Regions from separate parts of the Homo sapiens genome. Here regions 2 and 3 are each linked to region 1. Evidence: fine-mapped expression QTL. A gene starts in region 1. Each other region holds a variant in brackets. All regions are shown on one strand. Distances are between the middles of the regions. Region 1 holds the start of TIMMDC1 (translocase of inner mitochondrial membrane domain containing 1). Region 2 overlaps CD80 (CD80 molecule). Region 3 overlaps TIMMDC1 (translocase of inner mitochondrial membrane domain containing 1).

The links.
Region 2: its variant is fine-mapped to the expression of TIMMDC1 in whole blood (GTEx, PIP 0.96).
Region 3: its variant is fine-mapped to the expression of TIMMDC1 in monocytes (TOPMed, PIP above 0.99).

What each region holds. Positions count from the first base shown.
Region 1 is chr3:119,495,123-119,503,477 of GRCh38, reverse strand. It overlaps TIMMDC1 (translocase of inner mitochondrial membrane domain containing 1), which reads right to left and starts at 4,931. Exons shown (of 7, transcript NM_016589.4): 1 at 4,551-4,931; 2 at 2,618-2,783. The coding sequence starts at 4,744. RefSeq lists an enhancer at 5,142-5,191.
Region 2 is chr3:119,528,690-119,536,689 of GRCh38, reverse strand. CD80 (CD80 molecule) reads left to right here. Exons shown (of 7, transcript NM_005191.4): 5 at 6,753-6,848. It also overlaps the pseudogene CSRP2P1. Among named protein-coding and RNA genes, the nearest start is that of CD80, 27 kb to the left of the region's middle. The variant A/C (reference allele first, on the strand shown) is at 3,752.
Region 3 is chr3:119,516,228-119,524,355 of GRCh38, reverse strand. It overlaps TIMMDC1 (translocase of inner mitochondrial membrane domain containing 1), which reads right to left. Exons shown (of 7, transcript NM_016589.4): 6 at 7,041-7,151; 7 at 1-750. The coding sequence ends at 600. CD80 (CD80 molecule) reads left to right here. Exons shown (of 7, transcript NM_005191.4): 7 at 1-63. Among named protein-coding and RNA genes, the nearest start is that of TIMMDC1, 22 kb to the right of the region's middle. The variant A/TA (reference allele first, on the strand shown) is at 4,867.

The DNA of each region.
Region 1 (8,355 bases):
TCTAGAACTGCGGTAGAGGAATTTTAGCTATGGATTAGTCAGGTACACCCAAACAGATAGAAATACTAGAAAATCTCTAGAAATACTATTCTTTAAGTATTGAGGCTTACGTAAAAGTTCCATGTGTAGCCTATCCTATCAGGAGATGAAAAAATGGTTGAGTATCCCTTATCTGATACTTGAGACCAGATCCCTTATCTGATACTTGGATTTAGGATTTTTTCAGATTTGGGAATATGCGCTTTTAACACTTACTGGTTGAGCATCCCAAATCCAAAAAACCGAAATCTGAAATGCTCCAATGAGCAATTCCTTTGAATGACGTGTCAATGCTCAAAAAGTTTTGAATCTGAGCATTCAGGATTTCAGATTTGTGCTGCTCAACCTGTAATGAATTATAAATCTACAGAATAAAATAAGAATCCATGAGTCCCTACTGATAGAAATAAATTATAAATAGATAAATAAATATGTAAATAGAGGGGGGAAGGGAAAACACTTCCTTAGAGCATAATACTAACCAATAAATGTAGAAAGAATGATAGACTTTAGAAAATGCCCATTTGGCCACCACAGTCATAATTGTTACAGGAAGAATCATCATTAAATGCTAAAACTGCCTGGGTATGGTGGCTCACACCTGTAATCTCAGCACTTTGGGAGGCAACTAGGGAGGATCACTTGAGCCGACAAGTTTAAGACCAGCCTGGGCAACATAGCGAGATCCTGCCTTTACAAAAAAAATTTAAGAATTAGCTAGGCATGGTGGTGTGTGTTTGCAGTCCTAGCTACTCGGAAGGCTGAGGCGGGAGGAAACCTTGAGTCCAGAAGTTTGAGGTTGTGGTGAGCTATGATCGCGCCGCTGCACTCCAGCCTGCACTGAGGCAGGAAGACCCTGCCTCAAAAAATTTCAAAAAAAAAATTAATTAATTAAAAAATAAAAATAGGCTGGGCACAGTGGCTCACACCTATAATCCCAACCCTTTGGGAGGCCAAGGAGGGGGTGAACTGCTTGAGCTGAGGACTCTGAGACCAGCCTGGGCAACATGGCAAAACCCTGTCTCTACAAAAAATACAAAAATTAGCTGGGAATGGTGGCACATGCCTATAGTCCCAGCTACTTGGGAGGCTGAGACAGGAGAATCGAGTGAGCCTGGGAAATGGAGGTTGCAGCAAGCCAAGATTGTGCCACTGTACTCCAGCCTGGGCAACAGAGTGAGACCCTGTCTCAAAAAATAAATAAAGGAATAAATAATTTTTAAAAAAATAAAAAAATTATAAATGCTAAGAATTTAGAATAGTTTTTAGATAGTAGAAATATTATAGTTTATAATAGCATTTAAGTAGTAGAAATTTGATGAAAAGCAGGATATTTACATAGTCTCAAAGGAACTAACAAGTACTCAAAATACTTATAAATTACCAAGGAAAAACATAGTAATTTTACAGTGTATAGTTGGCAGAGGCCATCTTAAGCAAGTCACTGAAGTAAACATCACCAGTAAAGGGACAGAGATATCATGGGTTTCTAATTTAATTTCAGTTCTAGGGTATTCCTGTCAAAAAACATAGTCTGAATGCAGTCATGAGAAACCATCAAACAAACCCAAATTGAGGGACATTCTACAAAATAAATCACCCATAGTCAAGGCCATGAAAGACAAAAACAGAGAAACTCTTCCAGACTAAATGAGACCAAAGCAGCATAACAGGCAAATTCAACATGTGATCCAGGGTCAGATTCTGGACCAGACAAAAAAAAATTTAATTAATTAATTTTTTAATAAGAACTCAAGCCTAACTTCTGAAAAATACATTTTTTTATTTATTTTTAAAATAAATGATACTGTGGGATAACTAGCAAAATTTACAGGTCTTTAAATAAGATAATAGTACTATATCTGTGTTAATTTCCTGATCTTGATATTATAATTGTGGTTGTATAAGAGAATTTCCTTGTTTTTAGGAAATAACACACTGAAGTATTCATCATGTCTATAACCTACTGTCAAGTAGCTCAGAACAAATTAGTACATATTATACAGAGGGAGAATGATAAAACAAACATGGTAAAATGTTAACAATGGAGAATCCGGATGAAAGGTATATAGGAAATCTTTGTACTAGTTTTGCAACTTTCAAGCCTGCTATAATTTCAAAATAAAAAGTTAAAAATTCTCTGAGCTTTAATATTCTCACAAAAGAACTGATGTACAGATCTAATGATGTAACAAACGAGTTAGCACTCTATAAAGTTATAAATGTTAACTATTGCTTTAGTGTGAGCTCCTATACTCATGGAGGCTTTGTGAATGAGGTAAATATGTTACAGCTGAGCCTTGACGATTTAGCAGGGGATTGGAAGAAATGTATTTGAGAAAGAAAAGCCACAGTGGTGATGCCAAACATGCCTGTTCTGAAGATAACAAAGTAGTCTCTCAAACAACATGCAGGCACTTTAACATTAGTACTTCCACTGTTATTAAGTACAGACTTTATTTCTTTACTCTGACACCTTAAAACAACCCTCCATCCCCACAACCTAATTGAATGATTAAGTGTAAAGTGAATTACTAAGTCAGTGTGCCCCAAATTTCTTTAGATCACCAGTACATACCACAGCATCAAACCGGTTATGATAAATTTCTGCCTGGCTCTGCTCAATGTATTGTTGTTTAGCATGAATAAAAGCTGGTATTCCCCCATACACCCAGCCAATGATGCCTGCTGTAGCTGCCGTCTTACAGATATTAGCAAGGTCCTTTGAAATTCTCTGCTGTTCACTACAACATCAAAAAGACAATGTTGTTTGGGATTAGTTTATGGACATTGCTCTCCAAGAGACTCTATAATCAGAATTAACCCAAATGCTACCACCACAACATTTTTCATCATAGGTAGAATTCTCAGATGAATTAAACAGTTCAGTTATATTAAAAGGAACGTAGTCTCAGACAAAACGAAGCTATGGTGTTAGAATTAGGATAGTGGCAACTCCTGAAAAGACAATGACCGGAAAAGGCACAAGGGGAGCTTTTGGGATGTTACAATAGTTGCCATTTCTTTCTTAGTGCTGGGTACAGCTATGTTCAGTTTGTGAAAATTCATCCATCAGTATACTTAGGCACATTTTTCGAAATGCATTTCCTACTCCAATAAAAAGTTTTTTAAAAGGTGCTTTTGATGACTATTACACCCCTAGAAATAGGAAGAATTTGTGAGTTGGATAGAGAGACCAATATTTCCGTTTAAATCTTAAGTTAACTTTTAGAAATCACACCAACTCGTGAGATTTTAGGGCAATGTATGAAAGAATAAAAACGTGGATGTAAGACAAAAAATCTAAATTCTATTTTACTAAATAATTTCATGAAATACTCAGATAGGACTGTACTAATAAAAGCACTGGGCTGGGCACAGTAGCACACGCCTGTAGTCACAGCTAACTTAGGAGGCTGAGGTAGGACTTGAGCCCGAGTTCAAATCCAGCATAGCAACATAGCAAAGATCCTGGCTCTAAAAATAAACAAATAAATGTTTTTTTAAAAACGCACTGGGAAAGTTCACTATGCAGTGGGTGGCACATGCCAATCTAAAATAACAAGGAAAAACTACTATTTAATTCGATTTGTTACTCTCAAATGCATAAGAAGCTAGAACTGCTAATGAAGCTTCCAAGATGTCATCCTGAGACTGCTCTAACAAATAGCTGTCTTAAGTATTAAGTTACTATAAAATAATTGCCCTTCTAGGCCGGGCGCAGTCCAGCCGCGGTGGCTCAGGCCTGTAATCCCAGCACTTTGGGAGGCGGAAACAGGCAGATCACGTGAGGTCAGGAGTTCCAGACCAGCCTGGCGAATGGTGAAATCCTGTCTCTACTAAAAATACAAAAATTAGCTGGGCATGGTAGTGGGCAACTGTAATCCCAGCTACTCTGGAGGCTGAGGCAGGAGAACCGCTTGAACCTGGGAAGTGAAGAGTGCAGTGAGCCAAGATCGCACCACTGCACTCCAGCCTGGGCGATAGAGCGCGACTCAGTCTCGAAAAAAAAAAAAAAAAGAAAGAAAAATACGAGTTTGGGCTGGCGCGGTGGCTCACGCCTGTAATCCCAGCACTTTGGGAGGCCGAGGTAGGCGGATCGCCTAAGTCCAAGAGTTCAAGACCAGCCTAGGCAACATGGTAAGAACCCTGTCTATAAAAAATACATTAAAAAAAAATTAGCCGGGCGTGGTGGTGCGCGCCTGTAGTCCCAATTAATCGGGAGGCTGAGGTGGGAGGATCACTTGAGTCCCAGAGGCAGAGGTTGCAGTGAGCCGAGATAGCACCACAGCACTCCAGCCTGGGCGACAGAGCAAGACCCTGTCTGGAAAAAAAAAAAAAAAAAAGAAAGAAAAAAGATACAAGCTTGGGTTACAAATATCAGAACCTCAAATATAATCTAAAAATGAAGCACACCATCCTTGGTGTCCTAAGGCTGACCCAGGCTGCCCACGCTGCAGGACACCGCTTTCGCGGCCCCCTACCCCACTTCACACCCTAGGCACTTTTACTCTTTGCCAAACAGCTCCCGGAGGCGGTCCCATCCAGATTCCGGGTAATAGGGCTCTGGGACGTAGGGAAGCCGCTTCTGACGCTCCTCAAGGACTTCCGAATCGGCAGTCACAGCTTCGGCAGCAAAGACTCGGGGAAATAGGCACAATGCTCTACAGAGAAAGCTCCGCGGTGCCGGTGGCGGCACCTCCATGGCCTTCTCTCGACCTACGGACAAACTTGAGCGCTCAGGACTTCAAGTCCTCGCGGACGTGCCGCGGGAGAGCGTAACTGTACGAGGTGAGAATCCGTGCATTTGACCCAGGTTAACCCTCTGCCAGAGGGCTCGACACCCACACCTTCAGTCCCCGGCCTCGCTTTGGAGTCCTTGGAAATACGACACAGGAAGTCCCGCCCGACCGGGGCAAAGGCCAGGGGGCGGGGCGACGGCGAAGCCGGAGCCCAAAAGACTTCCGGTTGAGGGCGGGTTGGGCCACTGCTGTGCTGAGTGCACCCCCGGAAGTGAGTTGGCTGCCAGTAGTGAAGCTCAGCGTGGTCCCGGCAGGCCTTCGCTCCGTGTTTGTGGTTCCTGGGTCATGCAAACGGTGTCTGCGGCTACTTATATTCAGCTTGAGGTGGTCATAGGTTGAAGTAATTTATCGTATTTAAAATGCCAGGAATTAGCCGGGCATGGTGGCGGGCGCCTGTAATCCTAGCTACTCGGGAGGCTGAGGTAGGAGAATCGCTTGAACCCGGGAGGCGGAGGTTGCAGTGAGCCGAGATCACACCACTGCACTGCAGCCTGGGCAACAAGAGCGAAAATCTGTCTCAAAAAAAAAAAAAAAAGGCAGGAATCCCGCTTCAGTAAGGAAGAAAGTGCAATATTCAGTGCAAGTGGAGTAGGGAAAGAGGGAAAGGCGATTTGTGCAAAAACAAGTCCAACCTACTCTGCCAACATTAGAGAAGCCTTCCAGGCTGGGCGGGGTCCGTTTGTACCTTGTCAGTTCTGCTGGAAAAAAAACGAGGCATTGGGGATGGGTGTTGGTGCCAGTTACACTAAGATTTCGAGAACACTTTTTTGAAGAATCAGCTTTTTGGCAGGTCTTCCTAAGGTGGATTTCACTCCCTTTAGTTCATATGCCTACTGCTTCTCAAAAGGCAGGAGAATTTCTGGAATTTCTATCAAGTGTTTGTATAATTTGCCGTCACTACAACCTCTGCTAACATATGCTTCGAAGTACAGTTTTCATTAAAATGAATGCATTTAAAATATTCTCAATATTCGTGTAATTTCATTCAATCCTTGTTAACAAGCATACTCCCTTATTCATTTTGCCAATCCCTTCACCTCCTTGATTCCTTTCTAGTTGTCAATCAAAACTGCCACACTGTAGTAGAATACAGTAAGTGGACTTAGGAATTTGATAGCTGGAAATGCTACACATAAGTCCCTGAGAAGTGACTGACTAGAGTGACCAGCTCAATTAGTGACAGCGCCATGAAGACTACTCTGGGATATGAGATTTGATTCAGCACTCATCGTAGCACTTACAACACTGCATCATAATTTCCTATTAATCTGTCTCAATAAACTATCCTTGAGATCACAGACCAAATATATTCATCTCTGTATCTCCAGGACCTAGAACCGCAGTAGGTGCTCAGTAAATATTTGTTGAATAATTCAGATCTCCTGACTTCTGGCTCTGGATTACTGCTTATCCCATGTTAGGTAGAAGTGGGCACCAAGATAAGTTACCAAGGCCTGAAAGCCCAAGAAAATGGCTGTACAGTCTGTTTCTAACCTATATGTAGAAAAAGCTAAATGCATAAGATGACCCCAGAATTATTCTGGGGTGAAGGAGGACTTGAAATGGGTAGGAGGGTTTGGGTGGGTGTTGGGAAGATACTGACACAATCACTTATGTACAACTCAAATGCCCCAGGATTCACTAGCCTGTAGATGAGGTAATATTAACAGGCAAATTTTAAATTCCATAACTTGTTTCTCATTTGGGTAACGGAAGACTCATTTGTAATGTTCCTTTTGCCACCTGATAACTCAAAAAACTCCCCTCTCCTTTGGCTACTGCTCGCACTGTTGCTGCTCTTCCATCTGAGCCCTCCCACATTTCCTACTTCCCCAATCCCTTACGGCTTACCTTCTTTTAGAACAAGGGAAATGCTCACCCTCCTCTGTAGTCTGCTTATTTTATTTTATTTTTGATACAGTCTTAGCTTCGTCACCCAGGCTGGAGGGCAGTGGCAAGACCTCGGCTCACTGCAACCTCTGCCTCCTAAGTTCAAGTGATTCTTGTGCCTCAGCCTCCTGAGTAGCTGGGATTACAGGCATGTGCCACAAGCCTGGCTAATTTTTGTATTTTTAGTAAAGATGGTGTTTCACCATGTTGGCCAGGATGGTCTCAAACTTCTGGCCCCAAGTGATCTGCCTGCCTCAGCCTCCCAAAGTGCTGGGATTACAGGTGTGAGCCACCAAGCCCAGCCCTGTAGGCTGTAGTCTGCTCTTTTTGAAGGTTCTCCGATCAATACAGTCTAAGCCAGAGGTGTCCAATCTTTTGGCTTCCCTGGGCCACATTGGAAGAATAATTGTCTTGGCCCACACATAACACTAACTGTAGCTGATGAGCTAAAAACAAAAAACAAAAAGAAAAGAAAAAGAAAAAAGTCCATGCATAAATCTCATGTTTTAAGAACGTTTACAAATTTGTGTTGGGGCGCATTCAAAGCTTTCCTGGGCCGCGTGCAGTTCGTGAGCCATGGGTTGGACAAGCTTGGTCTAAGCCAAAAGGTGTTATGGGGTTTACTGGACCACTGTTTCACATATGGCTTTCTTGTCCCCAGGACATGTGTTTGCCAGCAGAGTAACTGCATCAGGGAAAGATTTCAGTGCAATCACCATACTGCCTGGAACACCATTCTTCCACCAACAGCCCTTGTTGCTGAATTCTGTTTATAGAACCTAATAGTTTCTTCCCTCACAGTGAATTTTTTTCTCAGGGGTCAGCAGGTTCCCTTCCCTGCCAGGTTCACCAAGTACTGCCCTTGCTACGTATTTTACATTTTGTTACATTATATATGATATAAAACTTTTCAACATGTGGAGAGAGAATGAATTTTGAGAACTCCAAGAACCATTTCATTTACTTATCCTTCATGGTATAAATTAATTTTTACCTCCACAAAGTTTCCCATCTGCTCCAGTTGGAAGTTTATTCTTCCTCTAAACTCCAGATCCACATTGTCTTCATGAATAATTGGCACTCCTGTTGCCTTAATCACCTTCCACGTATGTATGATGCCTCTCATATTGTTTATCATCTCAACGGCACAGCCCCTTGAGGTTTGGGAGCCTCTTGTAAACTTTCCTTGTCTCTGTGCATAGTAGATGCTTAAGAAGTATCTGGTAAGTATTAAATGAGTGACTTGTAAATATAACTCTCTGCTCCATCCACAACACCTTACCTCTGGATGCAGTAAGATTATCCTAAGAGAGGGCATCTTTAGATGCATGTAAAGATAGACTTTTGTGTATCTGTGCTTTTTTTTTTTTTTTTTTTGAGAAACAGGGTCTTATTCCCATTGCCCAGGTGGAAGTACAGTACAGTGGCATGATCATGGCTCACTGCAGCCTCAACATTGCGAACTCAAGCTATCTTCCTGCCTCTTTTTTTTTTTTTTTTTTTTTTTTTTTTTTTTTTTTTGTAGAGCCGAGGTCTCACCATGTTGCCCAGGCTGGTCTTGAACTCCTGGGCTCAAGTGATTCTTCTGCCTTGGCCTCCCAAAGAGCTGGGATTACAGGTGTGA
Region 2 (8,000 bases), 33 kb before region 1:
TTTTAGATATACAAATGACATGTGCTATTATGACTTATTAAAGTCACTGTGAGACTGGGCACAGTGGCTCATGCCTGTAATCCCAGCACTTTGGGAGGCTGAAGTGGGAGGATCACTTGAGCCCAGGAGTTCAAGACCAGCTGGGAAGCATGAGACTCTGACTCTACAGAACATTTAAAAAATTAGCCAGGCTTGGTGACACACATGTGTAGTCCTAGGTACTTGGGAGGGTAAGGTGGGTGGCTTACTTGAGCCCAGGTGTTCAAAGTTGCAGTGAGCTATGATCATGCCACTAGACTCCAGCCTGGGCAACAGAGTGAGACCCTGTCTCTAAAAGAAATAAATAAAATAATTTAAAAAATAAATTTAAAAAATAAAGTCACTGTGCAAGGTGTGATAATGTTACTAATTTTCTTTTTATTTATTTATTTATTTTTTTGAGACAGTGTCTCGCCCTGTTGCCCAGGCTGGAGTGCAGTGGCACAATCTCAGCTCACTGCAACCTCCACCTTCCAGGTTCAAGCAATTCTTCTGCCTCAGCCTCCCGAATAGCTGGGATTACAGGCGCCAGCCACCACCCTCGGCTAATTTTTTCTATCTTTAGTGGAGATGGGGTTTCACCATGTTGGTCAGGCTGGTCTCGAACTCCTGACCTCGTGATCCGCCCGCCTCAGCCTCCCAAAGTGCTGGGATTACAGGTGTGAGCCACTGCACCCGGCCTTATTTTCTTGTAATAAATATTCTAAAATTTATATATACTAAAAACCATTATCCATCAAGCATTCATCTTAAAAAGTTTTTGTAACAATAGTATTATTGAAAGCATTAAAATTTGCCCTTTGGAACTGCCCTTAGGGATTTGGTGCTTTCTTTTAGGGCATGCCACCCACACGGTTCCATGGTGCCAAACAATTTTTTTTTGTGGGCGAATGTGCTTTTTAAGAACTACTGGTTCATTCTGAACCAAGTCTGGGAAAGGTGAGTGACAAACTCCTTGAAGACAACGCCTGAAAAGAGGTCATTTTGGAGCAAATATTTTACCCTACTGGTAGTAAACTCAGAGAATTCTCTTTCCCCAAGAGGTGAAATCATTTGAAAATATACAATGAAAACGATGGGTTTATATGAATATATACATCTTAGGCCTATAATGGCTTAAGATGGCTTACAAGGTGAACTGAGATGCTCAAAATATTAATACTTGTTTAAATTGTACGGCTGATCATACAGAGGACCACAGGTCTCTCTCCCTACCCCTAGCCCCACTCCCAAGGATAGGTTTTGTGACTGTATAGTAAGAAACAAAACACTGAGTTTGATAATACAGTTGCACATAAGTATATAGCACAATATATACTATATGGCATGTCTTAATTCTTCATGTCTTTACTTGTAGTTGCGAAGTGGATAATTTATTTTAGATGGTCTAGTAATTCATGCTAGTGTATGATTTACTCTAGATCTTTCAGTGTTACAGCAGATTTTTTTTTTTTTTTTTGAGACGGAGTCTCGCTCTGTCACCCAGGCTGGAGTGCAGTGGCGTGATCTTGGCTCACTGTAACCTCCGCCTCCCAGGTTGAAGCAATTCTCCTGTCTCAGCCTCCTGTGTAGCTGGGACTACAGGTGCCAGCCACCACACACAGATAATTTTTGTATTTTTAGTAGAGATGGAGTTTCACCACGTTGGTCAGGCTGGTCTTGAACTCTCGACCTTAGGTGATCTGCCCGCCTCAGCCTCCCAAAGTGTGGAGATTACAGGCATGAGCCACCATGCCCGGCTACAGCAGATTCTTTATTTTCCTCAATGAGACAAAATTTCCTGGGAAAATTAGTTCAAATATAAACCAAACTTTGACATGACTATTGATACTCCAAACTTACCAGTCTCAGTCATCTTTTATGTGTTGTAAAAATTTTATTAAAATGAGGCTTCAATCATATAGTTTATTAAGTCTCTATTTTTACTTTCTTGTTATAGCATTATTTAACCAATTTTACATTATTCTGATTGAAGGCAGAAAACAGTAGAGTACTGATTATTAAATCAGTAATACTAGCTTGGATTGCATTTTGATTTGGACATTATTTATATTGGAATATGGATATATGTGACATTCTAAGACAGGGGTTGGCAAATTTTTTTCTGAATAGAGCCAGATAGTAAATATTTTAAGCTTTGCAGTCACAGTCTCTGTTGCAACAACTCAATTCTGCTGGTTGTAGCACAAAAGCAGCCACAGACAAGACATAAATGAATGACATGGCTATGTTCCAACAAAATTTTTCTTTTTTTTTTCTTTTTCTTTTTTTTTTTTTTGAGACAGAGTTTCACTCTTGTTGCCCAGGCTGGAGTGCAATGGTGTGGTCTCGGCTCACTGCAACCTCTGCCTCCCAGGTTCAAACGATTCTCCTGCCTCAGCCTCCCAAGTAGCTGGGATTACAGGTGCCTGCCTCCACAACTGGCTAATTTATGTATTTTCTTAGTGGAGATGGGGTTTCACCATGTTGGTCAGGCTGGTCTCGAACTCCTGATCTCAGGTGATCCATCTGCCTCAGCCTCTCAAAGCGCTGTGATTACAGGTGTGAGCCACTACACCCAGCCACAAAATTTCATTTTTAAAAACAGGTGCAGGACAGGTTTGGCCCATGTGCTATAGTTTGCTAACTTAAGGTTTTTGTCTTTGTGGCTGGAGAGCTTTAGGGTATAAATGTCTCAAATCTCATTAATTGGACTGTGTGGGGATTCTTTAGAATAAGATTCAAAAGCAAATAATGCATTTATAGGAGGTCAAGGGCTGACTGCACTAACAAATATACATTAAGTGTATAGTACATAGAAATGTTACAGGTCAGGGTGAGTAAAGCTTTGAGGTGAAAATGTATTAGTCCCTTTTCATGCTGCTGATAAAGACATACCCGAGACTGGGCAACTTACAAAATAAAGAGGTTTAATTAGACTCACAGTTCCACGTGGCTGGGGAGGCCTCACAAATCATGGCAGAAGGCAAGGAGGAGCAAGTCATGTCTTATGTGGATGGCAGCAGCCAAAAAGAGAGCTTGTTATAAGGAAACTCCTGTTTTTAAACTATCAGATCTCGTGAGACTCATTAACTATCACAAGGACAGTGCAGGAAAGACTCGCCCCCATAATTCAGTCACCTCCCACTGGGTTCCTCCCATGACATGTGGCAACTGTGGGAGTTATAATTCAAGATGAGATTTGGGTGGGGACACAGCCAAACCATATCAGTAAATAACTGATTTGGAAAAAAAAAAAAAGCCCAAATGTATTAATTAAGCGGATTGCGCATATGATTCTTTTTAGTGTAGTCTCACCAAATTTGTTTTCCCTTGATAAACTGGAAGGAGATACATCTGAGAGAGTCATACTCATGGTATCTAATAAGCTACATGTGCAGATGCCCTCACACCGCTCTGTACCTTGGATTCTGGGTCTGCCCCTGTGGGATGTTACCAGGTTTCTAACAGGTGTCACAATAGACCTGGCTTGCTGCTACTGAGGCCTCCCTCTTTCCCTCACACACATACTCTCTCTAGGTTGAATGAGGCTTGTGGATGGGTGTGGAGTGGAAGCCAGGAATGAGCTGAAGCCTGTGAAACTTCTAGACTCCCAGGATAACAGCAATGGCTTGTTATTTTTTGTGTCATTCTAATCTGTAGAGGTCAACTCTGGTAATCACTTGATGTCTCCATTCAATCTGGTGTTTTAGAGAAAAAAGAAAAACCAACT[A/C]TCCTGTCTTTAAGTGGTAGGTACACTATGATTAAATAGGTGTTTCAGAATGATTACTGTGACAGCAATGTGCAGGAGTTATTAGAGCCTAGGAAACCTGAGGCAAAGAGACCGGTTTGCAGGCTACTAGGTGGGAGATGAGAAAAATCTCAGCTAAGGCAGTTGCTGCAAGAGATTTGGGAAAAAGCAGTAAGTTCCAGAGATATTCTGAATATAGAACAGAAAATACATGGGAGCCTACTGGGAAGTGAGCACAAAGAAAATACCACACTCTTATTTGGGTAACTAAATGGTATTGTTATTCACTGAAATGGGAGAATACAGCTGGTAGATATGATTTGGAAAGCAGGTAGTAAATTCAGTTTTAATCAGGTGGAGATGCTGGCATCCATCCAATATACAAATTTAGAAATCAGATGGCACTTCTTTTTTTTTTTTTTCTTTGTCTTTTTCTGAGATAGATTCTCACTCTGTCACCCAGGCTGGAGTGCAATCTTGGCTCATTGCAACCTCTGTCTCCCTGGTTCAAGCAATTCTCTTGCTTCAGCCTCCTGAGTACCTGGGATTGGTACTCGCCACCGATAATTTTTTGTACTTTTAGTAGAGACAGGGTTTCACTATGTTGGCCAGGCTGGTCTCGAACTCCTGACCTCAGGTGATCTGCCCACCTTGGCCTCCCAAAGTGCCAGAATTACAGGTGTGAGCCACTGTGCCCAGCCTCAGATGGCATTTCAAATCTCAGGTGTGGAGGATATTACCCAGGAAGACTGGGGCCAGTAAGGGCAAAATGGGACCACAAACAGAACCATGGGAACAACAATAATTAGAGGACAAGAAGAGGAAGAAAAGCCTTCAGAGAAAACGGAGTGCAACAAACAGAAACAGAAGGATGTGGTGTCACAGAAGTCCAAGAAGGAGAAGATTCCAACTGGCTAAATGCTGATGAGAAGTCCAATAAGCAAAAGAATAAAACTAGGCCAGGCGCAGTGGCTCATGCCTGTAATCCCAGCACTGTGGGAGGCCAAGACAGGAGAATCACCTGAGGTCAGGAGTTCGAGACCAGTCTGGCCAACATGGGGAAACCCCATCTCTACTGAAAATACAAAAATTAGCTGGGTGTGGTGGCACGCCCCTGTAATCCCAGCTACTCGGGAGGCTGAGGCAGGAGAATTCCTTGAACTCGGGAGGCAGAGATTGCAGTGAGCTGAGATCACATCACTGCACTCCAGCCTGGCCTGGGAAACACAGTGAAAGTCCGTCTTAAATAAATAAATAAATAAATAAATAAAACTTACCACTGGGTTTGGTAATCAGAAAAGTAAAAACAGGGATCTTGGACTCCCTGGACCCTCTCTCCAGCCCAGCCTTGCTAGCTCCGCCTGTGGTGCATGCTCCTGCCTCCGACTCAATGGTTTGCAGGAAAAATTTAGATAGCACAACAGTGGCAATTCACAATGAAGAGATCTACTGCAAATCCTACTATGGAAAGAAATATGGGACAAAAGGCTATGGTTATGGCCAGGGTGCTGGCACGCTTAACATGGCGAGAGGCTGGGCATCAAGCCAGAGAGTGTTCAGCCTCACAGGCCTACAAGAAATCCAAATGCTTCTAAATTTGCTCAGAAATATGGAGGTGCTGAGAAATGTTCCAGATGTGGGGATTCTGTATATGCTGCCGAGAAGATAATTGGAGCTGGAAAGCCCTGGCACAAAAACTGTTTCTGATGTGCAAAGTGTGGGAAGAGTCTTGAATCAACAACTCTGACTGAAAAAGAAGGTGAAATCTATTGTAATGGTGCTATGCAAAGAACTTTGGGCCCAAGGGATTTGGCTATGGCCAAGGAGCAGGGGCTCTTGTTCATGCCCAGTAAGGTGTAAACCCAGAACTAAGCATCACACATTGAGAATCTCTTCATAATCTAGGCACAGATAATCTTTAACACTAAACTACTGTGAAATTCTACCAGCATTGAGTACTGTATATTACCCTGTACTTGGATAGGCTGGCTAACTCATAGTGAGAGAGCACTGTGTCGTATCCTTTTGCTTTATTCACTAGCATTTTGGGGGAACATTTCTTTTATGTTTTAAATAAAACTTCAGCATGAAGAAAAAAAGTAAAAACAATAAGTTAGTAAATATTCATTTATTTGTAAGCCATTTCAGAGAAACCAGAAAATGAGCTGCTATAATTTGTGTCCCTGCCGTTTTTCCAGATGTTGCTAATGATTCCTCAAAGCAGCTGAAGAATAAATACTGCAGCTGCTGCTCCTGATCTGGAGGGATGGACCCGCAGCACCATATCCACCAACACCTTTCTCCTCCCCACCCTCATTTCCTTGTGTACTTCTTGTGCTCTCTGTGGGACTGAAACTACAGCTGATAACCTTCAGTGCTCTCTTCTAGGATGGTCCCACCTAATACCAAGCCATATCCACACTTAGTTCTTTGCCAGACTTGTTCTGTGTTTCCAGTAGCTAGAGGGTGAAAAACCTGTATCCGAAAGTGAATGCAAAGTGGCTCCTGTAGCTTTAGGGCAGCTACTGTGAGGTAAGGGTGTGTGTGATGTGTATGTGTTGAGAGAGAATATGGTAGGAGAAAGGGAGAAGGCACGACAGAGCTAGAGAAGGAAAAATAAAGTATACCTAGAACACAACATCAACCAGTTAGTAGTAACACATAGTTATAATCAGCTATAAAAGTGAGATACTGCAAGATGGCTTGTAAAAGATTTCCTTAGAATCTTCCTTATGTCAACTTAACTCAGTAAATGCAGACATTCAAAGTATCTTTTTCACTTTTAATATGTGACATCTGACTATTAGTTGCCCACAAGTATGTGCCTGATTGAAGAATTATGCAAGAAAAATGCTAGCAGCTGCATACTGGAGAGCTGACCAGGCAAAGAATACTCCACAGTTGCATCAATAGAAAAGGCACAGAATGAGTATCAGGCAGTAGGAAATACATTACAGCTGACATTATTCTTTTCCCTCCATAGCCAAGCAAGAGCATTTTCCTGATAACCTGCTCCCATCCTGGGCCATTACCTTAATCTCAGTAAATGGAATTTTTGTGATATGCTGCCTGACCTACTGTAAGTACTATCATACCATCATCCTGATCTCAATTCTGGAAGATCAAACTTTATTACCATGGTTCGGCATCTCTCTGAGGTTTTAGCCTATTCGCTTCTCATGTTTACAGCAAGCCTATGGAAACATGAGCATCTCCTTTACTTGTCTCAACAAGTTCTGTTCATTCACTGGACATTTTCCGGACACCTCCTACGTGTGTGGCACTCTACTAGGCACTGGAATTACAATGACAAGAAGTCACTGCCCTCAAGACACATTCTAGTTTAGTCTGTTTATTTTTTCCCTGACTTTATATATTTTTGGAGACTGGGGTTTGCTAACTAATTTGAAAACGTTTCTGATGCTAAATGATATTCTAATTTTTTTTTAAGGGCTAGTCGATTTGGCAGGTGAGTTGTTACACACTCCTTAGTGAATTCCAACTTCCATGGCCACCATCCTGCTGATATTCTAATTTTGATTTGGAGTTAGAGAAAAGGCAAATTGACAAATTTTGGTGCCAAGAATCATTTTCTTGGAGGAGGGCAAGATGCACTAATACAGTTGAGAAACTACATGGCTACAGGTGATCTCACCAATTCTCAGTTCTTGGGCTGGGTGGGGTGGCTCATGCCTGTAATCCCAGCACTTTGGGAGGCCAAGGCAGGTGGATCACTTAAGGTCAGGAGTTCGAGACCGGCCTGGCCAACATGGTGAAACTCTGTCTCTACTAAAAATACAAAAATTAGCCAGGCATGGTGGCGTGCACCTGTAGTCCTAGCTACTCAGGAGGCTGAAGCAGGAGAATTGCTTGAACCCAGGAACCCAGGAGGCGGAGACTGCAGTGAGCCAAGATCATGCCATTGCACTCCAGCCTGGGTGACAGAGTGAGACTCCATCTCAAAACACAAACCAATTCTTAGTTCTTTTTTTTTTTTGAGATGGAGTCTCACTCTGCCACCCAGGCTGGAGTGTATGCCCCGATCTCAGCTCACTGCACCTCCGCCTCCCAGGTTCAAGCAATTATCCGGCCTCAGCCTCCTGAGTAGCTGGGACTACAGGTGCGTGCTGCCACGCCTGACTAATTTTTTTTTGTATTTTTAGTAGAGACGGGGTTTCACCATGTTGGCCAGGATGGTCTTGATCTCCTGACCTCGTGATCCGCCTGCCTT
Region 3 (8,128 bases), 21 kb before region 1:
TACAGCAGATACTTTGTCAGCAATACTAAGGGAAGAAACAAAGTTGAACCGTTTCTTTAATAATGCTGATCTACTTTTTGTTGAATTTGTATTTTATTTCAAGTGTCAAAGAAATCATCTTTGTTTATTTAGATGAAACCAAACACTACACATTTACACTCACACTGCTTCCAGGACCCAAGGGTTTCACAGACCATTTGCCTACCTGGTTCTTTCCTCTCCTCTTTCCAGTGATTTCTAGAATACCCTTTCAAAGGACCACATGAATATACGAACTGTAAAATTCAACTTTAATCTTTTGCGAAATGTTTTATTTACTGCTTAAAATCTAGGTGGGTGGATATATTCATGTATGCATATATTGATAGATTAATACAAACATAAGTATGTATTTAAATTTAAGGATAAGTAAAGTGAGAGTACAACAGCCCCATTCTTAGTTAAAAAGAAAAGAAAAAGACAAGAGCAAGCCACTGCCACCACAGGTACCAGCACTTAAATTTGTCAGCAGGCTGACCAAAGAGTGGCCTGTCTGTTGGCATTCATCGGACATGGCAGCTCCCTTCAGCTCTCCAGTGAGTTTCAAGTTCAGAGCACTTTCAGTCCTTGTCTTGTTTATCTATTACTGAAGGGTTTCTAGGAAGGTTTAGCAGTGCTTCAATTTTCTTAGCATCATTCTCAGGTTCATCTTCCTGTAAACTACTTTCAATTTTCTCAGGGAGGTGCTCAGTAACTTGTAGTCTGCCTTTCCTGTAATCAGATAAAAAGGATAAATCAAATACTGCTCCATTTCTTTAGTTCTTACAGATTTAAAACAAAAAGGATAGCATTTGTCTTTTCCTCCCTGCTTTGGTATAGCAATTTAGAAGCAAATACTGCTCCCTGAACTTCAAATACAGTAACTTTCTTCTCTCTCCTAACCTCACAAGCCAATTATGATTTCCACATTACCATAATGGATACCGTTGTGGTGACAGCTCTGATCCATAAGATATTCCTAGTATGCTGGGTCCTAGAGTTCTCACAGGAGTGATGTGTGGGAACTGACACACTTTGTGCTAAGGTGTGAAGGCTTGAAGTCTCGCTGTCCTCTTGCTCCCAGGGCTGGGGGAATGTAAGTACCCTGCCACTCTTAAACTCTGTGACCAGACCTTTTAGGAACTGGTCAAAGGCTATAACAATGGTAATCCAAGGTAGAGAAAAGTCAGATAGAACAAAACTATAGATTTATATTTATGAAGAGTTAAAAACTAATTTCCAAATAATAGATCAGTTCTGTTTCTAAATCAAGTATTAGTGTCTTCCTTAAGTGATTATCGGGATTAAAGTTTCTTCTCAACTCTTCACAGATTTGGTCATTTGTTCTTCTATATCTCTATAGTCAGTTTTCTACATTTTCTGCTCATTGAGGCAATTTTTTTGACTCTCAATTTGTTTGATTTTCCTGTATTATTTTCAAGCGAAGAAGTAGGCACATACAAGACACTTAAACGTTTATTAACTCTCCTTAGAAATATCTCACACACACACACACACACACACACACACACAAACACCCATACGTGTATATGCTATACAATTTTGACACTTTCATTCTGCCAAAGTATTCTTTCATTACTATGATTCAAGTTGTTTTTATCCATCTGTCTTAAAATTGATACTAATAATTGTACATATTTATGAAGTACAAAGTGATATTTTTGTACATATACAATGTGTAATGATCAAATCAGGGTAATTAGCATATGCATCACCTCAAACATTTATCATTTCATACTGCTGGGACCATTCAAATATCCTCTCTTCCAGCTACTTGAAAATATACAATAAATTATTAACTATAGTCATCCTACAGTGCCACAGAACACTAGAATTTATGCCTCCGATCTAGTTATAATTTTGTATTCATTAATCAATCCCTTAAATCTCCTCTTCTTATGCCTTTCCCTGTCCCCTCCTCAGCCTCCAGTAACCATAATTCTACTCTTTACTTCTATGAGCCCATTTTTTAGCTCCCACATGAGCAACAGAACATGCAGTATTTATCTTTCTGTGTATGACTTATTTTACATAACAATGTCCTCCAGGCTCATCCATGTTCCCACAAATGACAGGATTACATTCTTTATTATGGCTGAATAGTATTCTATGGTGGATATATACCACATTTTCTTTATCCATCCATCTGTTGATGGACACTGACGTTGATTCCATACCTTGGCTATTAATAGTGCTACAATAAGCATGGGGGCGCAGATAACTCTTTGATATGCTGGTTTCTTTTCCTTTGGATAAATACCTAGTAGGGAAGATTGCTGGATCTTACAGTAGTTCTATTTTTAGTTTTCTGAGGAACTTCCATACTGTTTCTATAAAGGCTGTAATAATTTGCATTCCTACCAAAAGTATATGAGTTCCCTTTTCTTTCTACATCCTTGCCAAAATTTATTTTTTGTCTTTCTGATAATAGACATTCTAATTGGGATAAATATCACTCCAATTTCCCAAACTGTCCCCAAACCACATTTCATTGTGGTTTTGATTTGCATTTCCCTGATTAGTTATGTTGAATACTTTTTCATATACTTGTTAGCACTTGTAGGTATTTTTTGAGAAATACAAGTTTCCCCCCAAGCTCCCCCGCCCACTTTTTTTTTTTTAAAGAGACAGGGACTCACTTTGTTGCCCAGGCTGGAGTGCAGTAGCACAATCATGGCTCACTGCTGCCTTGAATTACTGGGCTCAAGGGATCCTTCAGCCTCAGTCTCCCAAGTAACTGGGGCTATAGGCATGCACTACTGTGCCTAATTTTCTTTTGTCTCATGCTGTCACTCAGGCTGGAGTGCAGTGGCACCATCTTGGTTCATTGCAACCTCCACCTCCCAGGCTCAAACAATCCTCCTGCCTCAGCCTCCCACGCAGTTGGGATTACAGGTGTGCACCATGACAATTTTTGTATTTTTAGTAGAAATGGGGTTTCACCATGTCGGTCAGGCTGGTCTCGAACTCCTGACCTCAAGTGATCCGCCTGCCTCGGCCTCCCAAAGTCCTGGAATTACAAGTGTGAGCCACCGTGCCTGGCCTCCAATGCCCTTTATTTCTTTTTCTTGCCTAACTGCTCTGGCTAGGATTTCTAATACTATGTTGAACAAGACTGGTAAGAGTGGGCATTCCTATTTCATTCCAGTTCTTTGAGGGAAAAGCTTTTCACTTTTCCCTGTTCAGTATGATATTAGCTGTGAGTTTGACATATATGGCCTTTACTGTACTGAGAAATAGTCCTTCTACCCCTAACTTTTTGGGAGGTGTTACCATGAAGGGGTGTTCAATTTTACCAAATGCTTTTTCTCATTTACTGAGATGATCATATGGTTTTTTTCCTTCCTTCTGTTTATATGATGTAACACATTTATTGATTTGTGTATGCTGCACCATCCTTGCATCCCTAGGATAAATCCCACTTGTTCATGATGTATAATCTTTTTGATGTACTCTTGGATTTGGTTTGCTGGTATTTTGTTAAGGATTGTTTTGTAGAATACATTGGCCTGTAGGTTTTGTTGTTGTTGTTGTTTAATGAGCCTTTGTCTGTTTGTTGTTGTATAAGGGTAATGCTAGCCTTGTAGAATGAGTTTGGAAGAACTCTCTCATCTTCAATATTTCGGAACAGTTTGAGAATTGGTCTTAATTCTTCTTTAACTGTTTGGCAGAATTTAGCAATGAAGCCATGTGGTCCTGGACATTTCTTTGTTGGGAGACTTTTTATTACCAGTTCAATCTTGTTACTTGTTATTGGTCTGTTCAAGTTTTCTATTACTTCTTGGCTCAATCTCGATAGATTATAGGGGCTCAGGAATGTATCCATTTCCTGTAGCTTTTCCAATTTCTTGGCATACAGTTGTTTCATAATAATCTCTAATGATATGACTATGTCCGTGGTATCAGTTGTAATGTCTCCTTTTTTGTTTTTTACCTTAATTGGGTCTTTTTTCTAACTTGTGGTTTCTTGATTTTGTTTTCAAGAAACCAACTTTTCATTTAGTTCTTCTTTTGTGTTTTTTTGTTTGTTTTTAAGTCTCTATTTCACTTAGCTCTGCTCTGATCTTTTTATTTATTTCCTTCTGATTTTGGGTTTAGTTTGTTCTTGCTTTTCGAGTTCCCTGAGGTGCAGTGTTAGGTTGTTTATTTGAAACATTTCTACTTTTTGATGGAGGCATTTATTGCTATAAACTTCCCTGTTAGTGATGCTTTTGCTGTATCCCATAGGTTTTGGTATGTTGTGTTTCTGTTTTCATTTGTTTCAAGAAATTTTTAAATTTCCTTCTTAATTTTTTCATTGACCTATTGGTTGTTCCAGAGCATATTATTTAATTTCTGTGTATTTGCACAGTTTCCAAAGTCCTTCCTGTTACTGATTTCTAGTTTTATTCTGCTGTGGTCTGAAAAAATATTTGATGTTATTTTGATCTTTAAAAATTTGTTGAGACTTGTTTTGTAGCCTAACATATGGTTTATCCTGAAGAACACTTCAAGATAAGAAAAACGTGTATTTTGCAGCTGTTGGATGTGATGTTCTGTAAATGTCTGCTAGATCCATTTGATCTACAGTACAGTTTAAGTCTGATATTTCTTTGTTGATTTTCTGTCTAGATGATCTGTCCAGTGCTGGGAGTGTGGTGTTGAAGTCCCCAGCTATTATTACATTAGGGTTTATCTCTCCCTTTAGCTCTAATATTATTTGTTTAGATATATATATATATGGATGCTCTGGTGTTGGGTGCATATATATTTACAGTTGTTATTTCCTCTTGCTGAATTGATCTCTTTACCATTATATAATGACCTTGTCTCTTTTTATAGTTTTTT[A/TA]TTTAAAGCCTATTTTATCTAGCATAAGTATAGCTATTCCTGCTCATTTATGGTTTCCATTTGCATGAACATCCTTTTCTATCCCTTTACTTTCAGCCTATCTGTATCTTTACAGGTGAAGTGAGTTTCTTGTAGTCAGTATATATAGTTGAGTCTTTAAACTTTTTTTTATTCATTCAGCCACTCTAAATCTTTAATTGGGGAATTTAAAGTGTTTATATTCAACATTGTTATTGATAGGTGTGGATTTACTCCTGTCATTTTGTTAACTGTTTCCTGGTTGTTTTGTATAATCTTTGTTCCCCTTTCTTCCCCTCTTATTTTCATGGTTGGTAGATTTTTGTAATTATAAGGTTTGATTCCTTTCTGTATCTGCTCTACCAGTGAGTTTTATTCTTTCACGTTTCCATAATGGTAGTTACCGTGCTTTTGCATTCAGATGTAGGAGTTCTTTAAGCATTTCTTATAAGGCAGTCTAGTGGTGATAAATTCCCTCAGTGTTTGCCTGTCTTGAGAAGACTATTTCTCCTTCATTTTGGAAAAATAGCTTTGCTAGGTATAATACTCTTGGCAGGAGTTTTTTGGGTTTTGTTTGTCTGTTTGTTTGTTTTTTCCTTTTAGCACTTGGAATGTATCATCCCATTCTCTCCTGACTTGTAAGGTTTCTGCTGGCAAATCTGCTGTTAAACTGATGGGGGGAGGTAAATGGTGGCAGTGGACCCTGGATGAGCCAGTCTTCAGGGGGTGCACGTGGCAGCTCAGCCACTAGAATTGGCAGGGTTGCCAGTGGTGGAAGACTCCAGGTGAATGACCTTAGAATGGCCATAGCCAGCCATTCTTAAGCTTTTCCATCTCAAAATCACTGATCTCTAAATCACTGACAAACTTCTGCAGTTTTTAATGTTTCATTTACTTTTTTAATTTTTTTTTTTTTTTGAGATGAAGTATTGCTCTGTGGCCCAGGCTGGAGTGCAGTGGCGCAATCTCAGCTCACTGCAACCTCAATGCTTTTCTTCTCATATAGCACTTAAGTCCTTGGATGATGGACCTACAGCTCTTAAGAATTTCCGTGTGTGTGTCTGTGTGTGTGTGGTTAGCAGAAATGGAGGTTTCAAATGAAAACACTGGAAAAAAATGATTTCTCATCTATCCAATTATAATACCAAAACAGCAACAGCAGCAGCAGCCAATGCTGTCTTAGGTACCCAGGAAGGTGAACTAGTGAAAATCATTTGTACTCAGGAGCACTAGATGGCAGCCTGTTATATTCATCTTACATATTGAATCTGTGCAAAGTCAGCTATCAGTCTGATTGCCCTATCCCACAAATTGCATCCCAGGAGATGATTAGATGCAATAGGTGAAAGTTTTCATGTTCCTCAGTGGCATTCAGTGCATGAACAACCATTGTCCACCTAATTCCTCTGCATCTACAGCAAGAAATAGAATTTTTGTGGAGACTTAACATGCTGTGTCTTACTTACATATGTATGCAAAAAAAAAAAAAAAAGTCACTTTTTTTCTTTTTTGAGACCGAGTCTTGCTCTGTGGCCCAGGCTGGAGCACAATCACGGCTCACTGTAACCTCCGCTACCCAGGTTCAAGTGATTCTCCTGCCTCAGCCTCCTTGAGTAGCTGGGACTACAGGCACGTGCCACCATGCCCAGCTAATTTTTGTACTTTTAGTAGAAATGGGGTTTTGCCATGTTGGCCAGGCTGGTCTCGAACTCCTGACCTCAGGTGATCCACCTGTCTTGGCCTCCCAAAGTGCTGGGATTACAGGCATGAGCCACCCTGCTAGGCTAAGGATGTCACTTTTTAAGTAAGCCAGGTAAAGCTCACTCCTTGGTGAATATTCCCTTTAGGTAATTTCCTATGCAGTTAAGAACACAGGAAAAGAAAAAACATGCAAGCAAGATTTACACCACTTTTAACTTAAAAAGATATCCAAAGAAAGATCTTCATTAAATTAAAACTAAAATCAATCTCTTTCATTTTTCCATTCTCCTTAAATAGATTAAAAGACAATGTACAGTATGAGTTGAAGGACTTGGTAAAAATAAACTCTTCTTTGAATTGAGTGGCAGTTTAGAGTACATAAGTTTAAAAGAGCACCACTATATAAGGCCTGGGGCAAGAGAGCCAAGATTCCCTGGGCTCAACATGTTCCTTACCACTCTTCCAGTTTTAGCTCATGGAGTGCCTTTCGATCCTTCTGTTTTCTTTCCTGAACAGTCTCACCAGAGTACTTCTGAAATGCCATCAGCAGGCCTCCTACAGGAGTGCTGAGAAGAAAGGAGAGGGAAAGCTTAGGAAAAACGAGTCATTAGACCTTGCAACATGTGAGATTCTCTGCTAAGGTGTGAGCAACACCAGAGCCACTTGTTCACTATTAGGTACAGGAACATTTGAGAATTAAAGTGTCCTTGTCAAATAAAGAAAAACATTGAGGTAATCTCTTCCTTGGTCTGAACAACAGACAAAAACAATCACTACAACCTCCTAAAGTTAACTGATATATAATAAAACAACAGATCTAGAAACTGGCTGTTTTTATGAGGAATGAGAAATAAATCAAAACAAAGAGGAAAAATATATATATTTATGACAAGTTCTAGTAAGTAGCCCCACACCAAAGATTTCTCAAAAATGAAATTTCTAGTTCAGAATGGCACCAGCTCCTCTAGGAGACAGGAAATGTGGAGGGCATTTCTGGTTGAGGGAGGGATGCTACTGGCTTTTGGGGGTGGGACCACCAAAATATCCTGAAGTTCAAGAGTCTGGCGTAACTGTCTCACCCACAATGCCAATAGCAACCCATTGAGAAACTGATTTAGATAATAATTATTATAGTGATGAAGAGAGTTTGGTTCTTGTGTTCTCAGACTAGAAGTATTTGACCTTCATACACCTTAAATTTCCTCCAGCTACAATTTAAGTAACCTCATACTAATAACTATTTTTGCTAAGTGGAAGCAACATAAATGTTCACTGACAGATGGTTAAAGAAAATGTAACATACACATACAATGGAGTATTATGCAGCCTTAAAAAAGAGGGCAATCCGTTCAACAGGTTACAACATAGATAAACTTCAAGGACATTATTATGCTAAGTAAATAAGCTAGTCACAAAAGGACAAATAGTGTATGATTCCACTCATATGAAGTATCTAAAGTAGTCAAAATCTTAGAAACAGAAAGTAGAAATATATTTGCTGAGGGCTGGAGGGTATGGGGAGGGGAAATTAGTTTTTAATGCA